Linked DNA regions of Homo sapiens. The protein of the gene in region 4 purifies or fractionates together with the protein of the main gene of each other region. This does not show direct contact. Each region holds a gene or a part of one and is shown on either strand. Other genes may lie near its edges. The genes, in order: CCT7, PPP2R5E, PPFIA1 and PPP2CA.

Evidence for each region.
Region 1: the proteins of PPP2CA (region 4) and CCT7 purify together in Homo sapiens (affinity purification with mass spectrometry; 5 studies listed by BioGRID and IntAct, with this or other methods). This does not show direct contact.
Region 2: the proteins of PPP2CA (region 4) and PPP2R5E purify together in Homo sapiens (affinity purification with mass spectrometry; 8 studies listed by BioGRID and IntAct, with this or other methods). This does not show direct contact.
Region 3: the proteins of PPP2CA (region 4) and PPFIA1 purify together in Homo sapiens (affinity purification with mass spectrometry; 6 studies listed by BioGRID and IntAct, with this or other methods). This does not show direct contact.

What each region holds. Positions count from the first base shown.
Region 1 is NC_000002.12:73,229,058-73,237,523, forward strand, and holds the start of CCT7 (T-complex protein 1 subunit eta), read left to right. Parts: upstream 1-5,250; 5' UTR 5,251-5,321; coding exon 5,322-5,327; intron 5,328-6,492; exon of another isoform or gene 6,493-6,588; intron 6,589-8,466. Other genes in the region: PRADC1 (protease-associated domain-containing protein 1 precursor), read right to left, coding at 404-513, 1,056-1,156, 4,037-4,103. UniProt on the Homo sapiens protein: Component of the chaperonin-containing T-complex (TRiC), a molecular chaperone complex that assists the folding of actin, tubulin and other proteins upon ATP hydrolysis.
Region 2 is NC_000014.9:63,372,378-63,379,898, forward strand, and holds part of PPP2R5E (serine/threonine-protein phosphatase 2A 56 kDa regulatory subunit epsilon isoform), read right to left. Parts: intron 3,732-7,521; coding exon 3,632-3,731; 3' UTR 1-3,631. UniProt on the Homo sapiens protein: The B regulatory subunit might modulate substrate selectivity and catalytic activity, and might also direct the localization of the catalytic enzyme to a particular subcellular compartment.
Region 3 is NC_000011.10:70,266,280-70,273,825, reverse strand, and holds the start of PPFIA1 (liprin-alpha-1), read right to left. Parts: upstream 3,137-7,546; 5' UTR 2,912-3,136; intron 2,648-2,911; exon of another isoform or gene 2,507-2,647; intron 1,654-2,506; coding exon 1,390-1,653; intron 1-1,389. UniProt on the Homo sapiens protein: May regulate the disassembly of focal adhesions. May localize receptor-like tyrosine phosphatases type 2A at specific sites on the plasma membrane, possibly regulating their interaction with the extracellular environment and their association with substrates.
Region 4 is NC_000005.10:134,202,074-134,209,594, reverse strand, and holds part of PPP2CA (serine/threonine-protein phosphatase 2A catalytic subunit alpha isoform), read left to right. Parts: intron 1-3,463; coding exon 3,464-3,673; intron 3,674-7,521. UniProt on the Homo sapiens protein: Catalytic subunit of protein phosphatase 2A (PP2A), a serine/threonine phosphatase involved in the regulation of a wide variety of enzymes, signal transduction pathways, and cellular events.

The DNA.
Region 1 (8,466 bases), on a different chromosome or scaffold from region 4:
AATCTGTTATAAAGGCTCATAAGTAAATAGCTAAAAGCATGGATAATTTAAATACATTTCTTTTTCCTTTTTCTTTTTTTTTGGAGACTGGGTTTTGCTCTGTTGCCCAGGCTGGAGTGCAGTGACGTGATCTCGGCTCACTGCAGCCTTAACATGCGGTCAAGCAATCCTCTCACCTCAGCCTCGAGTAGCTGGGACCACAGGTGTGCACCACCATGCCCAGCTAATTTTTGTATTTTTTGTACAGACAGGGTTTCTCCATGTTGCCCAGGCTAGACATTTCTTAAAGACGCTTAAAAAGATGAAATTTTCAAAAACAGCTCTTTCAAAGCACTACTACCAATAATCTCAGAATCTGCCGTATGCCTGCCCACTCCTCGTGTCCTGCCTGCCCACTCCTTACCCCCTCTCCACCAGAGCAATCTGGTCCTGGATGAAGAAACCGTTGCTGAGTTCCCCGCAGGCCTCTGGAGGTTCAGCGGGGACAAGGTGAATCTGCTCATACCTTGTGTGCTGAAAAACATTTAACATTTGGACAGGTGAGAGTGTAATGAGACACACCTGCTTTAGGACTGGGCTGACAATCCCATCTTATTGGCACCTTATAAAGTGTGAAGGAAACATGGAGTGGTTTCTGTATCGCCAGACACTTAAACATTTTTACTTAATTCTCGCAAAGGCCTATCTGGTTGTCCTACACCACCCTACCCTTCTATGAGATAGGCAGGGGACTTGGTTGTAGATCCAGAGAGAGGAAGTGATGTGCCTTAAGTCACATAGTTCACAGGTAGAGCTGGCAGAGGAAGCTGGTGCTCTTGGCTTTTCACTTCATGTCCCCTAAAAAGACAACTTGTCCCTCCATGGTGCCTAGGTTTATATTATACTCAGGGGAGTAGCTGGAAGAGCTTCCTTTCTGTGCTGCAGCTCATGGAAGGCAGAGCTGATTCTGCTCCCTTCCCTGTCCCAGCACTCAGGTGGGATGAGAGGGTCACTGCAGCTCAGTGAGGGGAAGGGGGAGGTTGAGGATCAGAGATCAGGGGCCTCCCTTAACTTACAAAGATACCACCAAAGTCCTTGGCAGGTGTGGCTGTGAAGATGTATCGAATGTCCCCAGGACTCAGCACTTGAAAGTACAAATAATCATGGATACGGAAGCCTGAAGGATAAAGAGTACAGGTAAGAAGCCTCCCAGGAACAAGCTGGTTCAGGTTCAGATCCCAGACCCTGTGTCTTCAGCTGGGCTGGCTATAGTCTGGGCTCAGGGTCCTGGCTTCAGCCAACGGGGTCCACTAGTGGCAGGGTTGGGGGCTAGATGGCCTCTGTCCTGGGGAGGATAGAGTTGATGCAGAGTCATTAACCCCAGAGGCTTATATCAGCTGCTGCTGCTGCTTACGCAGTAAGCCAGGAAAACTGAGAGCTCCAGGGTTAGTATTTTTGCTCTGAAGACCTGGGAGTTTCAGGGTAGAGATGTAGTGGCCTGCGTACAAAGCAATTCTCACTAAAATTTAAAAGTTGACTTTCTGGTCCCACTGCCATCCCCTTAAGTCTAGTCACTATCATCTCTTGTCCTGACAGCTCAGCTTCTTACCTGGCCTCCCTGCCTCCATTCTTGCTCCCCAAGCAACAACCAGAAATCGAAAACATCTTAGCAATTATGAGCACATCACCATACCTAGGGTTTCAATAACTGCCCTTTGCATTTAAAATTTAAACTCTTTTTAAACTGTGGCCTACAAGACCCTGTTTGCTGTGGCCCCTGGCCACTCTTCCAACCTCATCTCCTCCATCCTGTGTTCAAGCTACACTGGCCTTTCAGTGTCTTCACTTCTCTGGGTCTTTCTGCAGGCTGTTCCCTGAGCCTGGAAGGCCCCCTACTCCCACGCCACCCTACTTCCACCCCTTTACCTGACTCTTTCCTAGTCATCCTTCAGGTCACACCTTAAATGTCACTTCCTCAGAGAAAGCTTCTGCCTCATGATTGCCCTCCCATACCCATTCAAATGTACTTTTTAATAAATGGGGACTTTCAACATAATTTGTAATTATACAGCTTTCATAACTTTTCTTTTTTTCTTTTTTTGAGACGGAGTCTCGCTCTGTCACCCAGGCTGGAGTGCAGTGTTGCGATCTAGGCTCGCTGCAAGCTCCGCCTCCCGGGTTCACGCCATTCTCCTGCCTCAGCCTCCGGAGTAGCTGGGACTACAGGCGCCCGCCACCACGCCCGGAGAATTTTTTGTATTTTTAGTAGAGACGGGGTTTCACCGTGTTAGCCAGGATGGTCTCTATCTCCTGACCTCGTGATCCACCCGCCTGGGCCTTCCAAAGTGCTGGGATTACAGGCGTGAGCCACCGCGCCCGGCCTCTTTTTCTTTTTTTTGAGACAGGGTCTCACTTTATCACCCAGGCTGGAGTGCAGTGGCGCCATCTCGCCTCACAGCAACCTCCACCTCCCAGGCTCAAGCGATTCTCATGCCTCAGCCTCCCAAATAGCTGGGACTACAGGCGTGCGCCACCATGCCTGGCTAATTTTTTTTTGTATTTTTTAGTAGAGAGGGTTTCGCCATGTTGACCAGGCTGATTTTTTTTTTTCATTTTTTAAATAGGAATGGGGTCTCGCCTTGTTGCCAGGGCTTGTGATCCTCCCACCTTGGCTTACCAAAGTCCTGGGATTACAGGCGTGAGCCACCGCACCTGCCCTGGATTCATAATTTTTAAATATCTGCCTCTTCCACTTTGTAACTTCATTCAGTGAAGAGTCACCAGTGTCTTGCACAGTGGCTACAATATAGGGATAGCCCTATAAACTTTCCTGAATGGGTGAACAACTATATCTAGCTCCACAGCACCGATGAAGAGAATTTCCAGACCACTAGATTTTTCTGGGGCATGGGATCTTCTCCTCAGCACCAAAGTTTAATGTTGTACCTGGACTTGAGTCCCTGGTTTCCTTAACCCAGAGAGACTGCGGAATGTTGAAAGATAAAAACTGCTGTCATGGGCGGGCGCGGTGGCTCACGCCTGTAATCCCAGCACTTTGGGAGGCCGAGGCGGGCAGATCACGAGGTCAGGAGATCGAGACCATCCTGGCTAACACGGTGAAACCCCCGTCTCTACTAAAAATACAAAAAAATTAGCCGGGCGTGGTGGTGGGCGCCTGTAGTCCCAGCTACTTGGGAGGCTGAGGCAGGAGAATGGCGTGAACCCGGGAGGCGGAGCTTGCAGTGAGCCGAGATCGGGCCACTGCACTGCAACCTGGGCGACAGAGCAAGACTCCGTCTCAAAAAAAAAAAAAAGAAAAAAAGAAAACTGCTGTCACAAGTCTGTTAGTCTATCAACAAACTACCAAGTCACTACTGTGTACCAAGGATGGCATTAAGGCTTTAGCTGTCTTTGTTTACTGCCCAAATCACAGCCATCAGTTAGAGCTCCCATGGCTTGGCACTGGGCTATACAGTCCTGGGAGTGGGGACTCCCTCTCGGATACAAATACACCCCCAGAAAGCCTTCCTGGACTAGCGTCAAACTCACTCCCTCCTCCCCAACCCTTGCTTGCCTTTGTGTGTGCTTATTTGTGTAAGTTGTGGGTATACGTATGTGCTCACTTATGTGCATAGATGTATACATTTATGTGCTTGTGTAGGTGTAAACGGTTTGTGCGTGTGTGCCCACGTGTAGGAATGTGTGCTCCTGTGTACATGTGAATGCTCACATACATATCTCCAGCCTGTAGTATCCTTCCTTAGCTGTCCCTTCTGGTCGCACCCTAAGTCACCTGGGTCGGCGCTAGTGGGCGGGGAGGGGCGAGTGGGGAGATCTGCTTTGTCGTGGGAAGGTGAGGAGTCAGAGCTTCAGCCTCAGGCTGCGCCCACTTTATGTCCTTGGACCACCACCCACTTATTCCGGCCGCCCGCTCCCAGACCTGTCCTGCTCTGAACTCGCAGGGTCCCCAAGGTGACCCTTGGCCCCCAACCCGAGACGCGCGCAAGCTGGACGGCCAGCCCCGCCCTGCAACGCAGTCCCACCCGTTGCCGCTCACCGTGGGCCGCGACGCACGCGGGGAGCCAGAGCACGAGACAACACCAGCCCGCGGCGCCGGGGACCATCTCCAGGGCCGGGCCCGGCCCGGCGCCGCGTTTCCTCTCGCCGCCCCGCCGCGCGTCGCTCGCAGGACTTCAGCCTGACAGCTGCTCCGGCCTCCCGCCCACATACCCGCTCTCGCCGCGGGCTGGACGACGGGAACGAGGCTCAAGGCTGATTGGCTCTGACGCCTGCTCATGTAGCCACACTTTCCGCCTCTGCGCCTTAGCCTACTTCCTATTGGTCGAGAGAAGTGGAGCCGGGGGCTGATTGGCTTAAACTCTTAACAGCTACAACCGGCCTTCGCCTCAGCCCCGCCCCAGCATACTCTCCGGGTCCTCGCTGGCGGTGGGCGGGCCAGGGAGGACAAGCACTGGAGGTGTGCCCGTAGCCGGACTTGCTTCAGCTGTCGATAGTCGAGGCCGTTAACCCTTGCGGTCTCGGTCCTGTCCACTCCAAGGCCGCCTCGATTGACGACGATTAGCCTTCTCCCAGCTGCGCTTCCCTCCTCCCAGCTGCGCTTCCCTCCTCCCCACGCCTTCACGGGAAGGCACTCGTCTTGCGCCAGGGGGTCTTCCGCCCAGTGCCACCAACGCTTGCGCGCTCACCGTGGATAGGCGCTGGGGCCGCGGCCTGGCGCACGCCATCCACGAGGAGCCTCTGGCCAGTGCAAAGCCAGAAAACGGGCATTGGGGGCAGCTTCCCACGCTCGTCCCGTTGACACTGACTATGTAACTGTGACACTGGACACCTTGACCTCTCAGCCTCCTTTCTGTCATCAGTAAAATGGCCTTAATAGGACCAACGCAATAGGGTTGTGAGGATTAAATGAGATCGCTCACGTAAAGTGCTTTGGCACCAGCCTATCCCACACTTTGCGTCCCACACTTTTGCCTTTATTGCATTCCTTGGTCTGGCGTCCGGGGATGGAGGAGGGTGGAATTAAGTTAGTAGGTGATGCGGGCCGAGCAAAGACCCTCCGTGCTCTAAGAAGCACGACCGAAATGCGGCGACCCCTCTTTAATGAACGCCCCTCACTAGAGAGTCCCCGAAGCCCAGCCTCAGGTCCTTCTAGCCGCACCGAGTCGGTGGTAACGAACCATAGAGTAGCGGAAGTGGTCCGTTCTCTTCCTCTCCCGGCCCAAGCTTCTGGGTATTTCTATTGCGCGAGGCATTGTGGGTTGCTGGGCGGCCCGGTCTCGGAGAAGAGGGGAGAGTGGCGGGCCGCTGAATAAGCTTCCAAAATGATGGTGAGTGGCGTCTCGCGCATCCGTCGCCATCAGCTGCCATCTGGCCGGTGGCCGGCGCCGCTCGGCCTGGGCTTGCTCTGTAGGACCCTCTTTTGCTTGCCGCCTCTGTCCTCGCCCAGATCCCCAGCTTAGGGGCGACCCCAGCCAGCCGCGGCCTGGCTCGGCCCGAGCACGGCGCTGGAGCCGTTGGCGAGGGCTGCGTGGGGCTTTAGAGGAGTCTCTGGGCTGGCCGGTTGGGGACTACAAGTCCCAGGGTGCTTCGGGCCCGCGAACCCACGTCGGGGACCTCTTTTTTAGCCCCGCATGATCGGGACTTGCGTGAAACGAGTGCAGGTCGGCCGTGGTTACGCGGTCGGCAGCTAGACTTGGAAGCTGGGGCTGCTCTGAGATTTGCGGGCTGTAAAGACGTGTGCTTCTTGGAACCGGCACAGGCACATTGGGGACCTCATATTGTGCCCGCCTAGGGACTCACTATGTTCACTCGCTGACCCTCACCGCAGCGTGCAGAGAAGCAGACGCCTTCCCTAGTACTTTTAATTCATTCACTCATTCGCTCAGTCATTAAATAAACGCGTCTTTAGTGCCTACTGAATGTACCAGGCCCTGGTGGTTGCTGGGGGTTGCAGCCTCTCAGCCAGGAGAACGGGAAAGGTAGATGGAGACACTGTATCGGAGGTGGGAAGACCCAGGCTCGGACTCTGGTGACATAAGAAAGGCTTTTCTAGTTGGCTACCTAACTCTGGGTCTCGTTTTCTTGAAATTTGGGGCGAGGGAGTTGCTGTGAGTCCTGGAGCCACCTAAAGTGCTCCTTGTAGCCCTACTTCCCACACTTCTTTTCTCTGTCTCTCGGAGCTTTAGATACTTTCCGTGGGTCCCAAGCCTCGATGGTATCTCCTGGGTTGTTATTGAGTAGGGCCAGCTTCCGAGGTGGTGTTTGACCCTGACTGAGATACTGCTTTCTGTGCACTTGGCAGTTCACTTATTCATTTTGGCCTGTCCGACTCTATCTTCTGCTCTTTTCCTGCTTCCTGCAGCTTTTCTCTGTCCTGTTAGGGACGCAGACACCTTTTAGGTGTTCTACCAAATGCCCTATGAATCCCGCTTGTACCCAAGGTAGAAGGAAATTAGCATTTAACAGTACTTCCTCTCCCCTTTATGTCTCTAGCATTGCTCATTCTTGAAGTCGTCTTCATCTTCTGTGCAGAGGCAGCATAGTACAGCAGTTGAGAGTAAGGCCTCTGGAGCTACACTGAATGCCTAGGTTTGTAACTTAGCTCTGCCACTTACTAGCTGTGTGACTTTGAGCATGTTATTTAATTTCTGGTTCTCAGTTTGTCAGTGTGCCTAGCAGATAGTAAGCACTCAGCAATGTTAGCTCTTACTCGGCGAGGTGGTTGTTTGCTTCCTTTCATCTCTGAAATCAGTCCATCCCGCTGCCAGGGCTTCCGTAAGAGCTTTGGTTCACATTCACACAGCTAGGGATCAGAACCGCCATTCTCTGCCGTGATAAAACTTCACCAGTGGGCTCTAGATCATCACACTTGGATTTTCCCTGAACTGACCCCTCCTCTGTCAGATTGACGTTTCCCTGCTGTATTGGCTCTTGATATCTCCTCCCCATTTTTGGAATGTGAAACTTCTATCTCCAAGAGTCTTCCTGTCTTCAAATTGGCCCCTGATATTCTAGAATACTTCTGTAATCGAAAGAGAGGTGAAAAGGTCCCCTGAAACCTCAGTCCTGTGATGTTGGTACAGCTTGCATAAAATGTATGTCCTTGCCTTTGTGGCGTTGAGCGCTGTGTGCCTTGGCATAGACACACTTGTTTTGTAAGCCATTAAGCTTAATGATGCTTAGTGAAAGTTTTAAAGTAGGATGAAGAGGAAGATCAGTAAGCTGAAATTCCAAAACCTTCCATTATACCTGTGGCCAATTACTGGAGTCTGCTCTTGTTTCTTTTTCTTTTTTTTTTTTCCCGAGATGGAGTCTTGCTCTGTTGCCCAGGCTGGAGTGCAGTGGCACCATCTTGGCTCACTGCAACCTCCATTCCCAGGTTCAAGCAATTCTCCTGCCTCAGCCTCCCAAGTAGCTGGGATTACAGGCATACGCCACCACGCCTGGCTAATTTTTGTATTTTTAGTAGAGACGGGGTTTCACCGTGTTGACCAGGCTGGTCTCGAACACCTGACCTTGTGATTCACCCACCTTGGACTCCCAAAGTGCTGGGATTACAGGCGTGAGCCACCGCACCCGACCTTGTTTCTTATTTATTAGAGGAATAAAAAAAAGGAGCGAGGTTGAAAGTAACTAAGGGATGGAAACTGGACTTTGCATACAGTGCCTGCTGCTGGGGAACTGTTAGAAGAGGACCTATCCTGCTTGTCTTGGCTTGACTCAATCCAGCTCTGCCACCTTTTCCACCCCATAGATGCTCTCTACCCAGCCTGCTGTTTCTTCAGGGCCTGCAAAGCATAGGGAACCTGGGGAATCTGTGGTTAGCTGCTTCCAAGCTCTTCTTGCATTGTGCTTAAGAACTCTCAGTAAATGTAGTGTTACTGTAGTGCCAGTGCTTTTCTCCCCAAAAGTCAAGAAGCCAGTGCTGTCAAGCACTTACAAGTAGCAGTTGGATTTTCAGCCCCAAAAGCTGCTGAATATTGCTTCATGTGTGGCCAAATCTTGGCACTCTTCAAATTAAGGTTATTTTGGTCCTTGTCTTTGGAAAGCTTGTACTTAAGCTGGATGGTGATAAAAAGTTGCGAGCAAGGGCAAGTGAAGAGAAAGTTATGGGATTCCCCTATTCAGATGCCCTTGTTTATTACTGTAGAGAAAACTTCTTGGAAGAATTGGAGCTCTGAGGAATTGGTGGCCTGGTGGTGAGAAAGTGGTTTTGGTAGAAGATGGCAGAGTGACTATTTTAGATGGGGGTACACTTTGCAGGTTGAGGTGAGAAAAAGTATACACAAGCATTGGGTAAGTTAACCTGTTGAGGTGAAAGAACCTGTTGAAGGTGATAGGAAGTGATTGAGACTCATGTTAGTTTTTGATTTAAAGTGTAAGACTCCATCCGTGGCAGGGGTGGACCAGAGAAGACTTGGGGCTGCCATAAGGAATGATTTAGCAAGACTGGGAGATGGTAGGGCC
Region 2 (7,521 bases), on a different chromosome or scaffold from region 4:
GAGAAGCAGCTGAGCCAGAATACAAAAATAAAAATATTGATGTGCAAATAAAACATCAGTGATCATGTCTGGTGCCACCTTTTTGTTACAGGTGACTGTCACTTTATGATAACATTGGTAATAGCATCAAAAGAGAATCTCTTCATTTCCTGGGCCAGGTCAGTGCATCCAATTAAAAGGAAAAAAGGAAAACAAGGAAAAAAAACCACCCCAAACCCCAAAAAACTCTAAACACTTAAAAATGCCAATAACATCCATACATCCCTTTCCCATCCCACCCTCATCCCCACAAAAAAATAAAAAAGCTTTTAAAGCTCTAAATATACTTTTTTTGTTTCTTTCCATAGTGTGATTGAGCCTAGGGCTATACATTTAAGTATAGCAGGTGCAATTACAAGCAAGTCCTGGCTCTGCACCCTGGACTATCCCACGCATAGGAGGTACAAAATAAATTAAACCCTTTCATTTAGGCAAACAAGCCCAAGATGAAGGAGCATAACCCTGCTTGTGAGTATCCAGTGGCATCGAGGGTATTATTTATTTCTTTTTTTTTCTTTTCTTTTATAAAAAACAGTCAAATGTTAGGGAGAGCAAAATATAATAAAATTTAAAAGGACAAAAACTCAACACTGAAGGAAAACAACTGGGGATACTTCACAATGAGAAACAGGAATGCATGCTTGATTCAAAGTATGAGATGGGTGAATTCACTCACATAGTTGTTCTAGGCCCACAGCCTAAGGCCTCAGCGTCATTCTAAACCACAGGGTTGTGTGTATTTTTCTCTTCCAAAGACACTCTTAATCCTATCCCTGAAACCAATATGGTAAGGATAAGGTTGGAGTGATCATCACTCACTAACTACAATATTTGCTATTTAAAAAATATATTTATATATAGTTCTGGAAATTATGAAGCAAACAAAATATAACACAAAGATGCATTTGTCACAATTAACTCAAGTTGCAGCAACAGCAGAATTGTGGGAAGGGACAGAGAGAGAGGGCTGCTGCAAATGCAGCAAGTACGTCCTGAAATATGTCACATAGTGCAACAGTCAGATTACCTCAGTTACTCTGCGTCACCGCACACAACATGACTAATGTCACATTGTCACTTTCCATTAAAAAAGAAAAAGACGGTGTTTCTTCTCAGAAGTTGCCCTACGAATTTTAGACATATAGCTTTAATTGATTCTATAAATATGTCTAAAATGTGGCTTTATTCTTCTCAGTTTGGAATGATCAACATACAAAATTGACATCAAGGAGGAGAGCTGTAAGTGTTCACCTTTACTCTTGAAGACAGGGTAAGGTACAAAAAAGGATCCTGGCCTTTCTCATTTCAAATGACTGCATTTCATTCCAATGAGCAGAGATTCTTCATAAACCTGTGATTTTAATGTCTTCTACCTAAAAAGATGAATTAATGGCAAACAAAAGTTTACACTATATAAACTAAATATAATGCAGAGTTGAAACTAAAGGGCTAAAATGACAAGGGCTAAAAAGGAGAAGATTTGTTACAAATTTATTTTTTATCACATTGTTCCAGCATTTTTAAAGTCAGTTGTTTCGTCTTTGGCAGCCTCTGCCAACTTTACAGTGAATCCCCATCAATGTTCTTTAAAAAAAAAAAAAAAAAAACTATTAATTCCATTAAACCATGTTGCGTCTGGTGTTGCATATGACTTTTTTTTTTTACTGCTTTTTTTTTTCTTTTTGGAATTAACAATGCCAGTTTTGTTTGTTTTTTTACAAAGTTACCGAGATGACAATATCCATAATTAGCTGACTCTTACGTACACACTGTGACCTGATCATCCTGAAAAACTTTATGGGGGAGAAAGGTCAGCAGCTTCTCTTTCTTTTTCTTGAAAATAATAAAACTGCGTATTCTACTTTATATTTAAATGTAAGGAAGAAAATATACAAGCCCATATTTATATTGTATTTCTATTAAGAGCAACAATAGTTCATATGTTCATGTTTGCTACTATCACAATTCAACATATGAACACAGATCAGCTCTATACCATGAATACTGCTGGAAGTGATGGTTTAGGATTACCAACTCACTGCTGCCATGACCAAAACAAGCAAATGCATCCTGGAAATAAACCTCCAAACACATATCTTTCAGTACGTAATAATGCAACTGCATTAGGTAAGTACATACTGTACACAAATTTTATCAGCAGTTTACCTACCCAAGATGTAAGATTCTTCATTTAAATACAAAGCAGAGAGCCAATAAGATATATATATATATATATATATATATATATATATAAAATACAGCCCTAGATTTTGTTTTTTTTGTTTTTTTTTCTTAAACAATTTGGTCACGATGCACCTTTGATATAAAAGCATTTTTAAACTTTATTATTAATACTCAGGACATTAGGAATTTCCAGATTTTTTTCAGTAGCATTTGTAGAACCACTTTTGGTAACAAATACAGTAGTTAGGAATATGCATCCAATTCAGAATGCATAATAATGTTTATCCTGAATCCTTTCCGGCTAAAAACAGGGCTGGCGCTGTGATGAGATATAGAACGAGAATCTACAAAAAACACTGTAACATGTTTGTTTTTTCCCAGAGGCTACATCCTCTTTTGCTGGAATACTTTATAAATACATATTAAAAAGTAAGGCAACAACTCCAAACAGTCCAAGCTGTTTGCTCAACTCTTTTCCCAATTAGATTTGCAATCCCGGTGATCAATTTCATGGTTGTATTGTTTAGTGTTTGTCTTTCTTATTTCAAATGGTCCAAAAGGATGTTTTTCTCACATTTCTAAAACATCTCTGGTATGTGTGTTCAATGATATATGCAACTAATACTGGTCAGGTACTGAAGCCTGTGATGTCCCAGTGCCTGTTTTCAAAGGATTCAAGACATTGATTTGGATTCACCATAAACTGATGCATGAATCCGATATTCCCTTCCCTACTATGTTTATCACCTCTTCTCTCTTAACTCCTAATTTTAAAACTAAAGGAGTACCAGGACTACCTGGTTACTGGAAAGATGTTCACCCCAGTAAACAAAACTTTTATCAGGGACTTTTATAATTCATGACCCCATTCCACGTGGACATTCAACTCAGGAAGATGTGCAAAAGAAAAAGATGTTAAATTACAGTCAAGTTATCCAGAGGAGGATGTTACACAAACTTATAAGGAAATGACAGTCTTTTTTTCTTCCTTTACTATAAATACATTTAACAGCTTAGCAGAAAGACAAGCTAAATTTAAGATTGTTCACATTTGAAAATTGTATCATACTCTCTGCTAGTGATAAATAAGGAACTCCCGATAATGGAATTTTAACATAGCAATTTCATCAACAGATCTTTGAAGACCGATTTTTTTTTTTAAAAGAGGGTGAGAACAATGATTATGTTTGCAAAGTTCTGAGAAGTCCATCTACTGTCCAAACTTTGGATTGAAGTCCTTATTTTGTTTTTTCCTTTACTTAGAGACAGGTATATACAGTGCTGCTGTAATAATGAAACAAAGGTGAAATCTACTGTAAAGTTGCACAATACAGAAAACTGTTGCTCCATCTTCTACTACATAAACGTGTGACTCCACAGGTTAGTAATGTTGTTGTCATTGTTTTTGTTAAGTTGGAATTATTCCATCACGTCTAAGACCTCTCTTTAACTCCAGATCCTCCAATTTTTTCCACAATTCTTCACGCTCCTTTTCTTTCTTTTTCTCACTGAGGAAGAAACAGAATACAATGTAAACAGCTGAGGTTTAATGAGATTATGCAACAATGAATATTTTACAATTTCACCTTAACACTCCTTTATACTTAGCTTAATTGAGAAAATTAACTTTAAAATTACTAAGAAACAAAAATGGGAATGACTTATATGCATCAGTTATTGTAAAATCAAGGGCATATTAGTGATTTTCACTTGCAGCTTAGTAAGAATCTTAATTTTTCTTTATCTCCAAATAGTTTCTCAAAAAGGATGCTGGAGATGACACTGATACAGAGAATATAGTAGGTCAAGAAAATATATCTGCTCCTTTATTCCTATTTTTCCCACCTCATGCATATTTAAATTCTTCAGTAGTTTAGAAGAAACTGAAAACTTGTGATTTCACTTTTAATGATCTGAAAAGAACTTGGTTGATATTATTAAGTATTAAATTTTAATGCATCAAGCCTTCAAATTGGGTTCAATATCAATTTCACTGATTTTAAATTTAGTGATTTTCAGACTTTGAGATTTCACTATTTGGTAAAACTTCCCCCAAAAATTAGATGTCCAAATTAGAATCGACAAACTTTATATTTTGCCAAGGACATTTTAAAATTACATTTTTACAAAAAAAGGATTTTTAACATCAACCAAGTAGGAAGTACATGATGCAGGAATATAAGACTATATTGTAAGTTATATAAATTCACATTTACTAAAAATAATTCACTACACTGTCTCTGGTTTTTTTCCATGTTGCAGCGAACCAATAAAAAGCAGACCCAGGCTGGGCGCAGTGGCTCACGCCTGTAATCCTAGCACTTTGGGAGGCCGAGGCGGGTGGATCATCAGTGAGACCCCGTCTCTACTAAAAATACAAAAATTAGCCGGGCATGGTGGCGTATGCCTAGAGTCCCAGCTACTTGGGAGGCTGAGTCAGGAGAATCGCTTGAACCCGGGGGGCGGAGATTGTGGTGGACGGAGATTGCAGCGAGCCGAGATCACACCACTGCACTCCAGTCTGGGGGACAGAGCAAGACTCCGTCTCCAAAAAAAAATAAAAAAAAAAAAATGCTGATCCAGATTAACATTCATAAATCCAGGAATTCAGATAATTCCTGAAAATGGGGGCTCCACCATCTCAGGCATGGGGATGTAATCCATGCACTACCCCACTTAGCAAGGATTAAAACTTCAGCCACAGTACAATTTCTACGCAGGGAAATCCACATGGGTTGAGTGAAATTTGTATGTAATTCCAATGCCTCATTTTTTTTAAAACATTATAACCAATGTTTTTTAAAAGTTATATTAATATCTAGAGCAATAGAGATTAATCTTCATCCCCTCCAACTCCCAAAAAACTCAAGAAAAACCTAAGTAATTTTATATTCTTATTCCACTAGAGACTTGAGGAAATGTTGAATTATAATGCCATAATAGTCTGGTATTAACCAGAAATGTTTAAGACCATATGGGAGCACAAACCAGTGGAACTCTTTACAATAAATGTTTATGGCTTAGTAAAGCCATATGGTAATTAATATCATGATCTAATAGGTAATATTTTCATAACTTAGGCCTTGTTTACCATAATTAGTTTCAGCTATCTCAAATACAAATCTGCACAATATAAATTTCAGTAAGCAGACTAGTTTTCATAAAATTACCTATTTGTTAATTTTGACCCTGAAAAAATTGCACTTATAGGACAATAAGGGCAAGATTAGATAATCCTCCAATCTTCTTCTGGCTTTTTTGTTTTTGCTTTTGTTCTTTTCTTAGAGTCAGGGTCTCATTCTGTTGCTCAGGCTAAAGTGCAGTGGCACAATCATAGCTCACTGTAGCCTCAATCACCTGGGCTCAAGCAATCCTCTTGCCTCAGCCTCCTGAGTGGCTGGGACTACAGGTGTGCACCACCACTCCTGGTGCATTCCAGATTCTAAACATAATCAAGCTGTTTGACAAATTATCACTTTTTGTTTCTCAGTACAGTCTGGGAATAATTATGAGGTCTAAATCAATGTTAGCAAAAAACACAATTTGGGTATATATAAATCAATTGTATAGATCCTGCTGACTTTCGATGAATATGACCTTTTTATTTGGAGAGATAAGGGGATGGTAAGCAAGGGCTTGGAATTTTACTCAACTAAAAAACATTTCAATGTATTTCAGGTTCACATTGCCCTAATTTGCAGTTTTAACCCATTTATGCCAGAGGTTGTAAAACTTTCTTGTGAAAAATCAGACCTTGACGATGACCTTGAGCAGTGGGATAGAAATAACTCCCACAAGCTTAGCGTTCCAATAATGGAACACTAGGCATAAATTGGTTAATTAAGTGTTGACATCATTAAAACATTCATCATCTTGTTACTAAAGTGTTTCATGTTTTTGATCAAATATGGCACTCAATGCAATTTATCCTGTTGGGCTTTTCCTCCAACTGAGCATTATGCTCAGTTATCACACGGCTTTCATACTGACAACTCTATCTTTAAAAATCCTAAATATTGCTGACACAGTTATTGTCACCCCCAATCTTTCCCACTTTTCTCTCTCCCTGTAGGTGGAAATTTTAACGCTTAACCACACTGTCATGCAGGGGATATTGTCAAATTCTCTTCTAATTTCAATTTTACATAGCACTAATGTTGGCATATGTATCTAACAGTGTTAAGTACTTATTCCACCCACCATTTTCAGATTTGTAATACTTCAAAATTTGATCTGAACTGAAACCATTAACTTCTTGCCATCCTGAAGTAAAATTGTCCATTCAGTTATTCTCTGACAGTACCAACTAAATTTCTTCATTCCCTTGTCCTATTCCCACACCTATGGAGAAACCAATGTTTCCATCTGTCAGTACACCCTTCTATTGCTCATTTGACAAATTATTATTCTTGCTTTTAAAAACCCATTTTCTTTTTTTTTTTTTTCGAGACGGAGTCTCGCTCTGTCGCCCAGGCTGGAGTGCAGTGGTGTAATCTCGGCTCACTGCAAGCTCTGCCTCCTGGGTTCACGCCATTCTCCTGCCTCACCCTCCCGAGTAGCTGGGACTACAGGCACCCGCCACCACGCCCTGCTAATTTTTTGTAGTTTTAGTAGAGACGGGGTTTCACCATGTTAGCCAGGATGGTCTCGATCTCCTAACCTCGTGATCCGCCCGCCTCGGCCTCCCAAAGAGCTGGGATTCCTCTTGTTGCCCAGGCTGGAGTACAATGATGCAATCTCTGCTCATGGCAACCTCCCCTTCCCGGGTTCAAGTGATTCTCCTGCCTCAGCCTCCTGAGTAGCTGGGATTACAGGCATGTGCCTCCACGCCCGGCTAATTTTGTATTTTTTAGTAGAGATGGAGTTTCTCCATGTTGGTCAGGCTGGTCGCAAATTCCCAACCTCAGGTGATCCGCCTGCCTTGGCCTCCCAAAGTGCTGCGATTACAGGCGTGAGCCACTACGCCTGGCCCCCATTTTCTCATTAAGAAAGTACACTCATTATAAATAACTGTAATATGCCAGAATATCATAATCAACCTCAACCAGGAATAGATAAAATAATAGTTTTATCTATTCCTGGTCCCCTTAGTTAATTCTCATCTTTTTCAAGGGTTTAGTCTATTTAGTTTAGATAATAACCAGAAAATAGTTTTATTATTGAAGTTCACTAAATACAAACCAAATAATTTGAGTGGAAATAAGTTGTTCTTCAATATTCTCTCTCTTTTTTTTTTTTTTTTTTTTTTTTTTGAGACAGAGTCTCACTCCAATGTCCAAGCTGGAGTACAGTGGCATG
Region 3 (7,546 bases), on a different chromosome or scaffold from region 4:
ATCCTGGTAAAACATAAATTGGCTACTTCTTTTAAAATTGTAGTAATAAAATTCAACATAAATAAACTTGGTAATTTATAAGATTGAAATAAGAAAAATCTTAATGATTCTTTAATCCAACAAAAAAGGAACATAGAGCGCTAACGTCAAATTATTGTTGCTAAAAAGGAAACCCACGTTTGGCTTATCAATCTTTCAGGAGAACTGACTACAGCCAAGAAACACATTAAGGCTAGTACTTATTCATTTACTAATTTATCACTGCAGACCCATCATGCGAGTATAAATGTGTGCTTATGCGGGTCTACCTGAATGCACCCCAAAGGCACTTATGATGAGTAACGTGGCGCCTAGACAGCTCTGAAACACATAAATAACCCACTTCTCTCCCACTATGCCCCGTGCCACTCACCTTACACTCTTCTAGTTTTTACTTTCTCCCTTTACCTACCATTAAGTAAATCCTCATTCAACTCCATGAGCAAAGTCTTTCAAACACTGGTCCAAATGTAACATACTCAGAGAAACAATTTCAGTTGTTCTAAGCTTTAAAAATCTTTTTTTTTTTTGAGACAGGCTGGAGAGCAGTGGTGCAATCTTGGCTCACTGCAACCTCCACCTCCCGGGTTCAAGTGATTCTCATGCCTCAGCCTCTGAGTAGCTGGGACTACAGATGCGCGCTACCACGCTCTGCTAATTTTTGTATTTTTGGTAGAGACAGGGTTTTGCCATGTTGGCCAGGCTGGTCTCAAACTCCTGACCTCAGGTGATCCGCCTGCCTCAGCCTCCCAGAGTGCTGGGATTACAGGCATGAGCCACCACACCCGGCCTAAGCTTTAAAATTCTCATCTGCCAAGGAAAAAGTTCCTAAGGAATCAATCTCGAGTCTTCTATCCCCTAAAACAAATGTGACTTACAAAACCTAGATGTTCTGATAAAGGTGGGCTATCAAAATAATTTTTTTTTTCCGTGAAATCAATCCTATTTGTCTATTAAATTACATTAGGAAATTAGAAATACATGAGATAATCCATGGGAAGTACAAGTTTAGCCAGAAAAGGCTTAAGACAACAGAATGGAGGCACCAAATAGATTGGTTGCTTCAGAGCCCTTTTTCAAAAACTCTGGAGAACTTCCTGAACCTAGGCAGTTCCCAAAGATAGGAATGAAAATAATGAGGTATTTTCACATGACTTTAGAGTACAACGATTTGTTCTCCCTAAGAAGTTTAATCCCTAGGAACTTTGTATTTGACTTACAAACACCAGAAACTATCATTTCACAAATCGTTACGGAAAATACTCATCTGAAACATTAACAAAAGATGACACTAATAAAAAAACATTTAGTGGAGAAAAATCTATAGTTTCAGGTTAAAAGCACTCATACCTGTGGAAGTGCCGTGTTGAGCTGTCTCTGCAAGGAATCTCTTTCATGACCAACCTCGTGTAACTTCCCCTGGGTTAAGGCCAGCGTTTCTTGAGTCTCTCTCAGTGTATCAAGAAGGCGGTCCCTTTCTTCTAGCATGGAGACCATCAACTGTTCAAAATGTGAATCTGCATCTGGCTGTGAAGGGGAGCCGGAACCATGGCCTCCACCTCCTCCAGGGGGGCCTTCTGCTTCGCTGATGGTCGGCATCACCTCGCACATCATCTTGAAATGAAAGACCCAGGCTACAGTAATTAAGCTCAGAATACAGGTTCCCACAAATATGCAACTTTACAGGTATCTGTAGCTAAAAAGATGGGCAGTCTCATTATGCTCAGATCTGTTATGCTTTGTGTGTAAATAAGCTGGGAAAACATACACAGGGCAAATATTAAGTGCAAAAATACACAACATGAAGACATTAACACAGACAAAAATCCAGGGAAGGGGTCAAGATCCCAAAGGACTACCCTCACAAAAAAGGGCAAGCCCTGGGGTAGTCTGTTTGCAAAGCTGTACTTGTTTTTGCTGAAAACAAGTGTGCTTCTGTTACCTATTTTTTTTACTTCCCAGTGGGGTGGGGAGGGTGGGGGGGTAGGGGGGGAGAAAGTCAAAACACATGTCACCCAATCATTTTTCAGGAAAAGCACAGAAGGAGCATACAACCAGCAAAACTGACAAGTACAAAATCCATCAGGCATCTTGCAGGAATGTGTGCAGTCAGCTCCCGGGAAGAACTGACGGCTCCCTGAATTCTTGGGCTGGATTTGGTGAGCACTAAAAGGAACCGGATTCGTTAAACGCTGGTAGAAGTGTTTTCCAATGGCTGCAACGGTTGGTCAACCTAACTTACGTAAGTTTACAACCGAAAAAAAAAATCCACAATGGAAATATAGCAGGTCGATACAGCCGGGGGCGGCTAGGAAAGAGGGAAAAGTGAAAGGTGAGATTACGAGAGTCTATTAAGTGTCTGGGATATAAAGACAGCGCCAGGGAAAGGGGAAGTCGCTTCTGAGCCTTTCGGGCAGTACTGGGGGCGCGGTGGACCCCTGAGAGGGGGATGCCCCAGACGGCGCACCTGATGGGGATGGTGACCTCCAGCCTGCTCGAGCCGCACTCCTCCCCTCCTGTATCAGGTGCGGCGGAAGCCCCGAACCCCGGGGGGTGAGGACCGTTGACAACGGAGCCCGCTCGGGCCAGGGCTTTCAGCGGCCACAGGTCCCCGCCCCTCGCCCCAGCGCCCGGGTCACGGGGCGCGGGGCTCGGGGAGGGGCAGCGCGCAGTCCCCGGAGCCGTCCCTTGGGGCGCGGGTGTCCCGCCGGAGCTCTCCCAGCGCGACCCGGCGCCGCGGCCTCGCCCCCACCCGTCCCGGAGCGCACCCTTCCCCGCGGAGACATCTAATCGGCTGCGTGGCCGCCGCGGAGACCGGGACGCGCCGGTGACGCCTGGGCCCCGAGCCTGCCTCAGTGTCCCGCTCCCTTACCTTGCTCGCCGGCGGGAGCGGGCGAGGAGGCTCCGCGGCGGCTCGCGGGCGGCTGCTCGCTCCGGGAGAGCTTGGGAGCCGACGAAAGCAGCCCGCGGCCGGCGTCCGCCTGCCCGCCCCACGCCGCGGCCCCGGGGCCCGCCGCCCCAGTCACTAAGGCCGGCCCGCGGCCGGACACTGGCGGAGCGGAGGAGGAGCGGGCCCGGCTGCGCGGCGCCGGCGTCTACGTGCCCGACGTCGAGCGCGTCGGCGCGAGCGTCAGCACCGCCCCGGGGGCGGGGCCCGAGGAGCACCTTGGCCCGAGTACGCAAGCGCTGTCTCCTCAGGAGGGGGCGGGAGGCGGCCCCGGGGCACTGATTGGCTGAGCGAGACGGGAGCCACGCCCCCCAGGCCCCGCCCGGGTCGCGGGGGAGGGGGCGGTCTCCGGGATGAGCCACAGGTGGGCGCTCAGGTGCTCGCCGGGTCAGCGTCTTCCTCCGGGCGTCCCCAGTTTCCCCCCACGGCTGCAGGGACGCCGGAGGCCTTTGCTGAGTGTCTACCGCGCCTCGAGTTCTGAGCTGGACGCGTCCGGCACGTCAGGTCCCTCCCGAGCTGGAGGCTCTGGATTCGCACCTTGCAGAAGAGCGAACCGAGGCTTCAGTCACCACCGAGGACCCAGACCCCGCCCGCCGCGGCGCCCCTACGGTCTCCCTGGGCCTGATCTGGGTTCAGAAGGACGGAGTTCCCGCCAGGACCCACTTACGGAGCGCTGCCTGCCGCACCTGGGGACGTCCCGGCGCAGCGTCCAGAGTGCAGGCTTTGCCGCTGTGGCTTTCACTCTGCAGCGTGGGCCCGGGCGACTCGGGAAACCCGCCTGGGCTTCAGCGCCTCCGATGTAGGATGGGAAAATGATGCAGACCTACCTGCGAGGCTGCTTTAAGACATGAATCAGATGTGAAGAGCGACTAGTTGAGAGCCTGACGGGCAGCACTGCGCGAGTCTTGGTCATTTCATCTTTTCCGCAAGTTTTTTTTTTTTTCCAGACGTTGTTTCACTCTTGTCACCCAGGCTGGAGTGCAATGGCGCCATCTCGGCTCACTGCAACCTCTGCCTCCCGGGTTCAAGTGATTCTCCTGCCTCAACCTCCCGTGTAGCTGGGATTACAGGCGCACGCCACCAAGTCCAGATAATTTTGTATTTTTAGTAGAGACGGGATTTCTACATGTTGGTCGAGCTGGTCTCGAACTCCTGACCTCAGGTGGTCTGCCCGCCTCAGCCTCCCAAAGTGTTGGGATTACAGGCGTGAGCCACTGCGCCCGGCCTCAGCAAGAATTTTTAAACATCTACTATGGGCCAAGTCTTGTGCTAGATGTTGCAGATACGGAGATGAATAGAGACACCTCTAATTAATTAAAGCGGATGCCCTCCCCACTCCTCCCAGGATTTGACTCGGAGCACAAACTCTTCACAAACCAAAATGTCAGGACACCATCGCCAGTGTCCACTGGCCACTGCTGTTGGTGTGAGGCAGCCAGGAGCCCCTCAGAACTAGTAAGTCTGAGAAGAGGCTGCACGGGGCCTAGGAGAGGGAGAAATGAGCCCGTCCAAGGTGAATTCCTTGATTCTCCATTGTGAGTGCACCAAGAACAAGCACTCCCTCCGACTGACTCTCGCCTACCAGGATCTGGAACACCTTCCATTAATTTATTCGTTCATTCAATAAATATTTATTGACTGACTACACATAGATATGAATATGTACTTTTTGCCCCTAGTTTCTTGCTATTTTAAAAGTGTAAAAATGGCCAGGTGAGGCCGGGTGCGGTGGCTCAAGCCTGTAATCCCAGCACTTTGGGAGACCCAGGTGGGCAGATCACTTGAGGTCAGGAGTTCAAAACCAGCCTGGCCAACATGGTGAAACCCTATCCCTACTAAAAATACAAAAATTAGCCGGGTGTGGTGGCGGGCATCTGTAATCCCAGCTACTCAGGAGGCTGAGGTGGAAGAATAGCTTGAACCTGGGAGGTGGAGGTTGCAATGAGGAGATCATGCCACTGCGCTCCAGGCTGGGAGACAAAGCGAGGCTCTGTCTCAGAAAAAAAAAAAAAAAAAAAACATTGGCCAGGTGCAGTGGCTCACGTCTGTAATCCCAGCACGCTGGGGGGCCAACGTGGGAGGATTGCTTGAGCCTGGGCAATATATCGAGACCCATGTCTATACAAAAAATTAAAAATTAGTCCAGCAAGGTGGGCCACACCTGTAGTCCCAGGTACTTGGGGGATTGAGGTGGGAGGATCGCTTGAGCCTGAGAGGTCGAGGCTGCAGTGAGCTGTGATTGTGCCACTGCATTCCAGCCTGGGTGCCAAAGCGAGACTCTGTCTCAAAAATAATAAAATTGTAAAGTTGATCGCTTAGATGAGGTGTTCTGCAAGTACCCTGTACCTCTCCACACCCCAGCAATTCTGCACAACTCCCAAGTTCCCCTGAACCACTGTCTGAAACCAGCAAATTTCCAGCTCTCCTTAGGGGTACCTGCTTAATGCAGCCAGCTTATGTTTGCACCATGCTCATAAAGTGTCTGTTTTCTAAGAAATCGGCTCAAGGCCGGGCGCAGTGGCTCACGCCTGTAATCCCAGCACTCTGGGAGGCCGAGGTAGGCGGATCACGAGTTCAGGAGATCGAGACCATCCTGGCTAACACAGTGAAACCCTGTCTCTACTAAAAATACAAAAAATTAGCCGGGCGTGGTGGCAGGCGCCTGTAGTCCCAGCTACTCGGGAGGCTGAGGCAGGAGAATGGCGTGAACCCGGGAGACGGAGCTTGCAGCGAGCCGAGATCGCGCCACTGCACTCCAGCCTGGGCAACAAAGCGAGACTCCATCTCAAAAAAAAAAAAAAAAAGAAAAATCGGCTCAAGATCAAAATTTAGTTCGGCAGGGTAGAATGTTCATTCATTTCATGAATATTTGTGCAGCATGTATGAGCCAAGCATGGCTTAGGTCTTGGGAACGCAGAGCTAAGACATCACTTCTAGTATGAGTTCACAGTCTGGAGAAAGAGAAGAAAAACAGACTATTGCAATGTCTGTCCCGTAAACAGTGTGTGACTTGGTGCTGTGGAATCACAGGGAAGGGAGGAACCCGCTCTCCAGCTGGCATCATGGGGGCTTCATAGAGGAGGCAATATCTGAGCTGGGTCTTGAATGATGTGGGATTTTTCCAGCGGAGAAGGGAGACACCCAGTTGGTATAGCTCCAGGAAAATGAGAATTCTGAATTTCATTTTATTTCTTTCTTTTCTTTCTTTTTCCTTCCTTCCTTGCTTCCTTCCTTCCTTCCTTCCTTCCTTCCTCCCTTCCTTCCTTCCTTCCTTCCTTCCTTCCTCTCTCTCTCTCCCTCCCTCCCCTCCCCTTACCCTTCCTTTGTTCTTTTTCTCTCTCTTTTTTTTTTTTTTTTTGAGACAGGGTCTCATGTAGTCACCTAGGCTGGGATATAGTGGTTCGAACACAGTTTACTGCAGCCTCTACCTCCCAGGCCCATCAGTCATCTCACCTCAGCTCCCCAACAAGTAGCTGGGACTACCAGCGCAGACCACCATGCCTGGCTAACTTTTTTGTATTTTTGGTAGAAAAGAGGTTTCACCATGTTGCCCAGGATGGTCTCAAACTCCTGAGCCCAAGCAATCCTCCCACCTCACCCTCCCAAAGTGCTGGAATTACAGGCATGAGCCACCACTCATGGCCCTCATTCATTTTAATTCATTTATTATTTCATTCCCCCAGATCGCAAAATCAGTAAGGGGGAAATCGTAAACAACCTAAATGGCCAAGAAAACAAGATTGGTTAAATTATTGCACTTCCAAATGACAGAAAACTTGGTGACATTCACAGTCATTTTTTTTGAGACTGAATCTTGCCCCGTCGCCCAGGCTGGAGTGCAGTGGGGTGATCTCGGCTCACTGCAGCCTCCGCCTCCTGGGGTTCCAGAGATTCTCCTGCCTCAGCTTCCTGGGTAGCTGGGATTACAGGCACACCTGGCTAATTTTTGTATTTTTAGTAGAGACTGGGTTTCACCATGTTGGACAGGCTGGTTTCGAACTCCTGACCTCAGGTGATCCATCCACCTCAGCCTCCCAAAGTGCTAGGATTACAGGTGTGAGCCACCGCACCTGGCCCACAGTCATATTTTAGATAACTACATATATCATGATTGTGGTGGTAGTTACATTACTATATACGTTTGTCAAATAACTGTACATTAATATGTAGAGTATGCCTTAATTTTTATACATAAACAAAAACTTTTTTAAAAAAGCAAATTCAAACAAGTATACAGAGTGTGAACCCCAATTTGAAAAAGAAAACAGTCTGTGTTTAGATTAAGAATGTATTATGTAAAATTTACCTTGTAGATGAATAACTCTAGAATGTTAAGGTGATACATTTTTAATAAAATGAGTTTTATATGACATGAACTATTCTTGAAATGAGAAATTAAATTTTAAGTTTCAAATTATGAAAGAAAAACATATGTCTACATAAGAAAATATTGTTACTGTAGTCAATTAGTTCTTTATCTTTCCCCACTTCCCGCATATATATATGTATATATTCTTGGAAGGAGATCCATCAGAATGTTCGCGGTGGTTATCTTTAAGT
Region 4 (7,521 bases):
TTGGCCAGGCTGGTCTGGAGCTCCTGACCTCAAGTGATCCACTCGCCTCAGCCTCGCAAAGTATTGGGATTTGGGATTACAGGCGTGAGCCACTGCACCCAGCCCAAAATGATCTTTTATATGAACATCTGTAGCTTTTATTGTTCTACTGTTCTGGTGTAGTCTGTTTTATTGTTGTAACTATCTGAGAGCTGGTAAGTTGAGACCAAAACAACAACAACAAAACAACCAAAATCATGCTTAAAACTGGTTCTTTCCAAGGTTGCATTTTTGTTAAGATCTACTTAATAGTTGATTGGATGATTTTTTTTTTTTCCCCCTCCGGTCTGAGGGATGGTTGCTTCTACTGTATACCACTGTTATCGCCAGTATTTAATTATATTTGTTCTGGTCTGTGAAGTTTGGTAGGAAGGGAAGAAAGAGCTCTGGTTGGCTTTTCTAGATTGACAAGTTAGAAATTTCACTTAAGAGTTAACTGTTCTTTTTATTTTAAAGGACAATTTGATAATGTCAACATTTAAAAACCAAACTACTAGATACACTAGTTAAGTTCACTTCATAGTATCTTCTCTCAGGAAATGTGCCTGCATATGTATACAGAGGAGAAAATACGAGGATATATATTGCTGTAGTTTCACACCCCTCTGCCATTGTAATTGGTCAGGGGAATACTCTGCCTCCACTATGAGAAAATAACCAGCTGTCTCAATAAATGTTATGTATTATTATATATTGTTAGAAAAGCAGGCTGCTGAACAATATTGTTTCTAGTTTAAAAATGCAAAGGAAAACTATTGTTTCTGTAGACATACAGTATGTGTGTAAACTTTGTAAACAAAGTTTTAAAGGATATACAGACACTCCCCAATTTTTCGACTTAATGATGGTGTGAAAATGATAGCTATTCAATATACCCCTCAGTTTATGATGGGACTACATCCAGATAAATATATCATAACTTGAAAACATTGTAAGCTGAAAACACACTGTTGACTCGATTATATTTACGATAGGATTATCTGGATGCAGCTGTGTTACAAATTGAGGAGCATCTGTACATCAAAATTTTATTGGTAACTTTGCCCAAAGGGGGTGGGATTGTGTAGGGTGCTCAAAGGGAACATTTCATTTTATCTGTGCCGAAATTTTTTACAAGAATGTATTACTAATTTGTATAGTTTAAAAAATAGATAACACTGTTTATCGGTGTGATTTGCCTAAATTGAAATAAAAGCAACAAATAGCATTTAGACTTAATTTTCCTTCATGATTTGAATAGAAAATTTGAGTCAGTTGTAGTAAGGAACTTCAGGCAGTCCTGAAAGTCAACTTTTTATTATTAATACAGAGAATAGCTTTGCAGATAAACAGATATTCACAGAAGTATATTAACATTTAACTTCTGATAGCTTTAAATGTGAAAATTACATCATGGCAAGATTTACATGGTATATAACCATCTGTTTGCTTATGTCATGCCCTTTTAAAACTTCTGAATAACTTTTGCAAGTTTCTTCTCAGTGTAGGACTTATTTCATTTAGTTATTTTCATTAATATATGATAGGTGTTAAAAAAACACTAGATGTGGTATTAATGCCAGACAGACTTGGTAATGGAATAAGCCTAGTGAATTTGTGTTTTTTAGTGATAGTAAATGGGAAGTTGGAATTACCCTGCAGAGAAAAATTTCAGAATGAAGTAGGATTTGATAATAATGGGTTGTACATATTTCTTAATAGGTATCTCAGGCCAGTATAGTGGCTAACGCCTGTAATTCAGCACTTTGGGAGGCAGAGGTGGGCAAATCATTTAAGCTCAGGAGTTTGAGGCCAGCCTGGACAACATGGTGAAACCTCACCTCTACAAAAAGTGCAAAATAGGCATAGTGGTGCACACCTGTGGTCGCAATTGTTCATGGAGACTGAGGCAGGAGGATCGTTTGAACCTGGGAGGTGGAGGTTATAGTGAGCCGAGATCATGCCACTGTACTCCAGGCTGGTCTGGAACTCCTGGGGTCAAGCCATCCACCCGCCTTAGCGTCCCAAAGTGCAGTGGTTCTTAAACTTGGTTGCACACTGGGAAAAGGAGGGGTGGGGGTGCTTAAAAATTATTGATGGCTTGATTCCAGTCTCCAAAATTCTGACTTTATTAGGGGAAGGAATGGGCATTGGTGTTTTTGTTTTTGTTTTGAGACAGAGTCTTGGTCTGTCACCCAGGCTGGAGTGCAGTGATGCGATCTTGGCTCACGGCAACCTCCACCTCCCAAGTTTAAGCAATTCTCCTGCCTCAGCCTCCCAAGTAGCTGGTACTACAGTCATGCACCACCATGCCTAGCTAGTTTTTTTTATTTTTAGTGGAGATGGGGTTTCGCCATGATGGCCAGGCTGGCCTCAAACTCCTGACCTCAAGTGATCGGCCCGCCTTGGCCTCCCAAAGTGCTGGGATTACAGGTGCGAGCCACCGCGCCTGGCTGGGCATTGGGATTTTTAATGTGCAGCTAAGATTGCATACCAATGCTTTGAACCCAGTCCTTGTCATCTGTGGTTGTCATGGCTCATTAGCAACAATTCTCTGGTAATTTGTTTTGGTATCTTATGTAAAGTGGTCTCTCCCAGTTTCCCTCTCCCTTTCCTTTGTGACACTTAACACAGTGTACTTTTGGCTTGGTTACTTGTTTGTGGTCCTTCTCCCCTCTACGGTAGTGGGAATGAGCCATCTTGTTCACCACTATATGTCCAGTTGCTAGCATGGGGCTGGTACAGATGGTTGAGCAAATGATTTTCTCACAGGTATGAGCCACAGTGCTTGGCCAAAAACATGTTTTTAAAAAGTCAAACAGGGCTGAGGTGAGGTGGCTTATGCATGTAATCCCAGCCCTTGGGAGGATGAGGGTGGAGGATCACGTGAGACCCCGTCTCTACAAAAAAGTTTGTGAAAATTAGCCAGCCATGGTGGCGTGTGCCTGTGGTCCCCACTACTGAGGTGGGAAGATTCCTGAGCCAAGAAGATCCAGGCTACAGTGAGCTATGATCATACTACTGCACTCCAGCCTGGGTGACAAAATGAGACCCTGTCTCAAAAAAAGAAAAAAAAAGAATCTTTGAGTGCTGCATTGTAGTTAGAACTCTGAAGGTAAGGAAGTAGATACCTGAATGTCCTGTTCGATTTTCATTGGTTTTATGTGACAGCTAACAATTAGTATTTAATTAGATGGCTATTTGATAGGTTTTTAAAAAACTCCTGGTATTGATGATAGGAATGCATATTTTTTCCCTAGGTAACAGGGTGAGATAGCTAATGGATTATAATCATATCTCACTTATTTTAATGGGTTCATAAATGCCTGCAATTTTATCTTAGACTGAGTCTGCCCCTTAAGCTACATTAAGTGTAAGTAAACAAATCTTTGTTAATATTGTTTAATGCCAAATGTATTGCCTTATTTTTGTCTCCCATCTGTAGGCTAAAGAAATCCTGACAAAAGAATCCAACGTGCAAGAGGTTCGATGTCCAGTTACTGTCTGTGGAGATGTGCATGGGCAATTTCATGATCTCATGGAACTGTTTAGAATTGGTGGCAAATCACCAGATACAAATTACTTGTTTATGGGAGATTATGTTGACAGAGGATATTATTCAGTTGAAACAGTTACACTGCTTGTAGCTCTTAAGGTAATTTCAATTTTATGTTGGGGCATGTTGAAATGGGTAAGACAGTCCTCTTGAAAGTTTTTTTTCCCCCAGTTATTTTCTCTATCTGAATGTTAAAACAAAATTCCACATTTAGGAATGCATATGTTCAGGTTTTGGACTTAAAAATCATAGGCGTCTGCGTTCTGAGTAAGGGGATGGTACAGAATCAAAACAAAAGGAGGAGAATGAATGCCTCAGTCAGATTGTTTGAAAAAATAGGCTGGGCGTGATGGCTTATGCCTGTAATCCCAGCACTTTGGGACGCTGAGGTAGGCAGATCACCTGAGGTCAGGAGTTCGAGACCAGCCTGGAGAACATGGTGAAGCCCCATCTCTACTAAAAGTACAAAAAACTAGCCGGGGGTGGTGGCGGGTGCCTGTAATCCCAGCTACTCTGGAGCCTGAGGCAGGAGAATTGCTTGAACCTGGGAGGCGGAGGTTGCAGTGAGCTGAGATTGCGCCACTACACGCCAGCCTGGACAACAGAGCGAGACTGTCTCAAAAAAAAAAAAAGGAAAAGAAAAATGTTAGAGGGCTGGTCAAATAGATATTTTAGTTCAGTAAATTGGGGTATGGAGAGGTAATATAATTAGATTTGTGTTTTTAGATACTTTTGAAGTATTATAAATATATAAACATACCAAATGTCAAAATGTTTTAAATCAGCTGGTCACGGTGGCTCGTGGCTATAATCCCAGCACTTTGGGAGGACAGGACAAAGTGAGCATATTGCTTGAGTCCAAGAGTTTGTGACCAGCCTGGGCAACATAGTGAGACCTTGTCTACAAAAAAATAATAATAATTAACCGAGTGTGGTGGCACAGGCCTGTAGTCCCAGCTACTCAGGCTGAGGTGGGCAGAGTTGCCTGAGCCCAGGAGGTCGTGGCTGCAATGAGACTTGATCTTGCCACCCTACACTCTAACTTGGGGAACAATGAGACCCTGTCTCAAAAAAAAAAAAAAATATCGAGGAAGAAGTTCAAGAAAAAAAAGAATTTTTCTGAGAAATTCAAGAAAACATTTGCTGTAAATATTTAACAGAGAATATTATGTACATTACATACATTATGTATGTACATATGGTTTAGCTCAGTTGAATAGTTTCCAGCCATTAACCATGACAGTAATAATCTAGACTAGGCTGGGTGCAGTGGTTCACGCCTGTTATCTCAACACTTTGGGAGGCTGGGGAAGGCGGGAAGGATCACTTGAGTCCAGGAGTTTAAGAACAGCGTAGTCAACATAAACCCCATCTCTACAAAAAGTTAAAAAAAATAGCCAGGTGCAGTGGTGCATGCTTGTAGTCTCAGCTACTCAGGAAGCTGAGGTGGGAGGATCACTTGAACCTGGGAGGTCAAGGCTACAGTGAGCCATGATGCACCACTGCACTCCAGCCGTGTGACAGAGCAAGACCCCTGTGTCTTTAAAAAACAAAAATCTAGAATGGTAGAAATGATAACCGAAAAAAGCAAGTTCCAAAATTACATGCATTACATGCCAATTGTAGCTTTGCAAAGTGTACTGATGATGATCTGAACATGAAGCAAAAGATGGTAAAGAGCTGTTAGGGTGGCAGGCTTCCGCCTTTCCCTTTAAATAAATTGTTTGACTTTACCTTTACCCAAAAATCTTGGGGAGATTTTTTCCCCCCTAGGCAACAGACTGATTTTTATTATTAAAGAATATTCAAAATGATAAATGGCTGTCACAGACTTTCCTAATATTAGAGAAGCAGTGAGATGTGGTTTTAGCGTGAGCTGAATTTTCTTGATTAATATCTGAATTGTGTAAAGTCCTACGAAATATTTTTGGAGATCGTTATTTTCTGCATCTGTAAAATGAAGGAGTTGGACTAGATGGTGGAAGGTTTCTGCGGTGACTCCAAATACTATGAAAAGAGCTAACCTGTGCTAAAAACCCAGGATGAATCCCAGTGCTCAGAGGAATGAATGTGCTACCTTTAAGAGTATGCAAGCAGCCTGGGCAACCTAGTGAGACCCCATCTCTTCAGAAAACAATTTTAGCCAGACATGGTGACATGTGCTGTAGTCCTAGCCACTCTGGAGGCTGAGGTGGGAGGATTGCTTGAGCCTAGGAATTTCAGGCTGCGGTGAGCTACTCCACTGCATTTGAGCCTGGGCGACAGAGTGAGATCCTATCTGGGGGGAAAAAAACTTACTCATGGAGGTTAATGGGCTGAATTGTAGCCCCCAAAATTCATTTGTCTAAGTCCTAACCCACAGCACCTCAGAATGTGACTGTATTTGGACAGGTAATTAAGGTAAAGTGGGGTCACATGGTTGGACCCTAATCCAGTGTAAGTGGTATCCTTATTAGAGATTAGGACACAGATGGGGAGAAGATAAGACAGATGGAGAAGATGAGCATCCATAAATCAAGGAGAGAGGCCATCAGAAGAAACCAACTGTGCTGACACCTTGATCTTGGACTTCTGCCTCTGGAACAGTGAGGAAGTAAATTTCTGTTGTTTAAGCCACCTATTCTCTGATGCTTTGTTGTGGCAGCCTTAGCAAAAGAATACCGGGGGAAAGGATGTTTCTTTCAGTAAATGGTGCTGAAGCAAATGGATCAGAATGTATCATAGAACTAAATGTAAGAGCTAAAGCTACAAAACTTCTAGAATAAATCAGAAAATCTTTGTCAGGTTAGTTAAAGATTCTTAGATATAACAAAAGCACAGTCCATAAAAAATTGAAAAATCGGACTTTATCAAAATTAAGATTATGTTTTTTCAAAAGATGACACCAGAAAAAAAGTACTTGTATTCAGATATTTAAAAAAAAAAAACTTTTACAGCTCAATAACAAGACAGATAATTGTAAAATGGGCAAAATATTTGAATAGATATTTTACCCAAGAAGATGATACATGAGTGGTCAGTGAGCACATGAAAAGATGCTTGATATCAATTGTAATCAGGGAAATGCAAATTAAAGTAACTGAGTTACTACTTCACATCTATTAGAATGGCTGTAATCAGTAAGGTTGATAATACCAAGTGTTGGTTAATACCGGAGATTAAACTCTTCATGCATTGCTGGTGGGAATATAACATGGTCTAGCTACTTTGAAAAACAGTTTGACTGTTTCTCAAAAAGTTAAACGTTACCAGGTGATCCAACAATTATATTCTTAGGAATCTTCCTAAAAGAAATGAAAGCATATGTCCACAGAAAAACTTCCATGTATATGATTATAGCAACATTATTCATAGTAGCCAAAAACCTCAGTAACATAATTGCCAGTTCATCTTAACTGTGAATAGAGAAACAAAAAATGGTATAGCCATACAGTGAAGGACTGTGCAACTATGAAAAGGAACAAACCACTGATCTATGCCAGAACATGGGTGAGCCTCAAAAATATTCTAAGTGATATTTAGCCAAAAGACTACATTTTGTATTCCATTTATATGACATTTCTAGAAAAGACAAACTCAAGACAGTAAATCAGTGGTTGCCAGGAGCTGGAGTGGGAGTGGAGAGTGACTGCAGGAGGGATCTTTTTGGGATAATGGAAAGGTTCTAAAACTGGATTGTGGTGATTGTTGCATAACTATAAATTTGTGAAAAATTACTGAACCGTAAAGTAATTTATGGGGTTTTAATAGCCCATTGATTTATGTTTGGTATAAAGTTGGTGGTAGAGGGAGTTTGATTTTAGTTGAGATGAGGTGGGCAAACACCCCATGGGCATTTAAAAATTCTGTAGAGCTGTGGTTTTGGTTCACTATGATATGAGGATGTGTGCTGTTTTTTCAACAAAATTGTAACTGCATTTTTTTCTATAGAAAGTTTCTTGAATTTT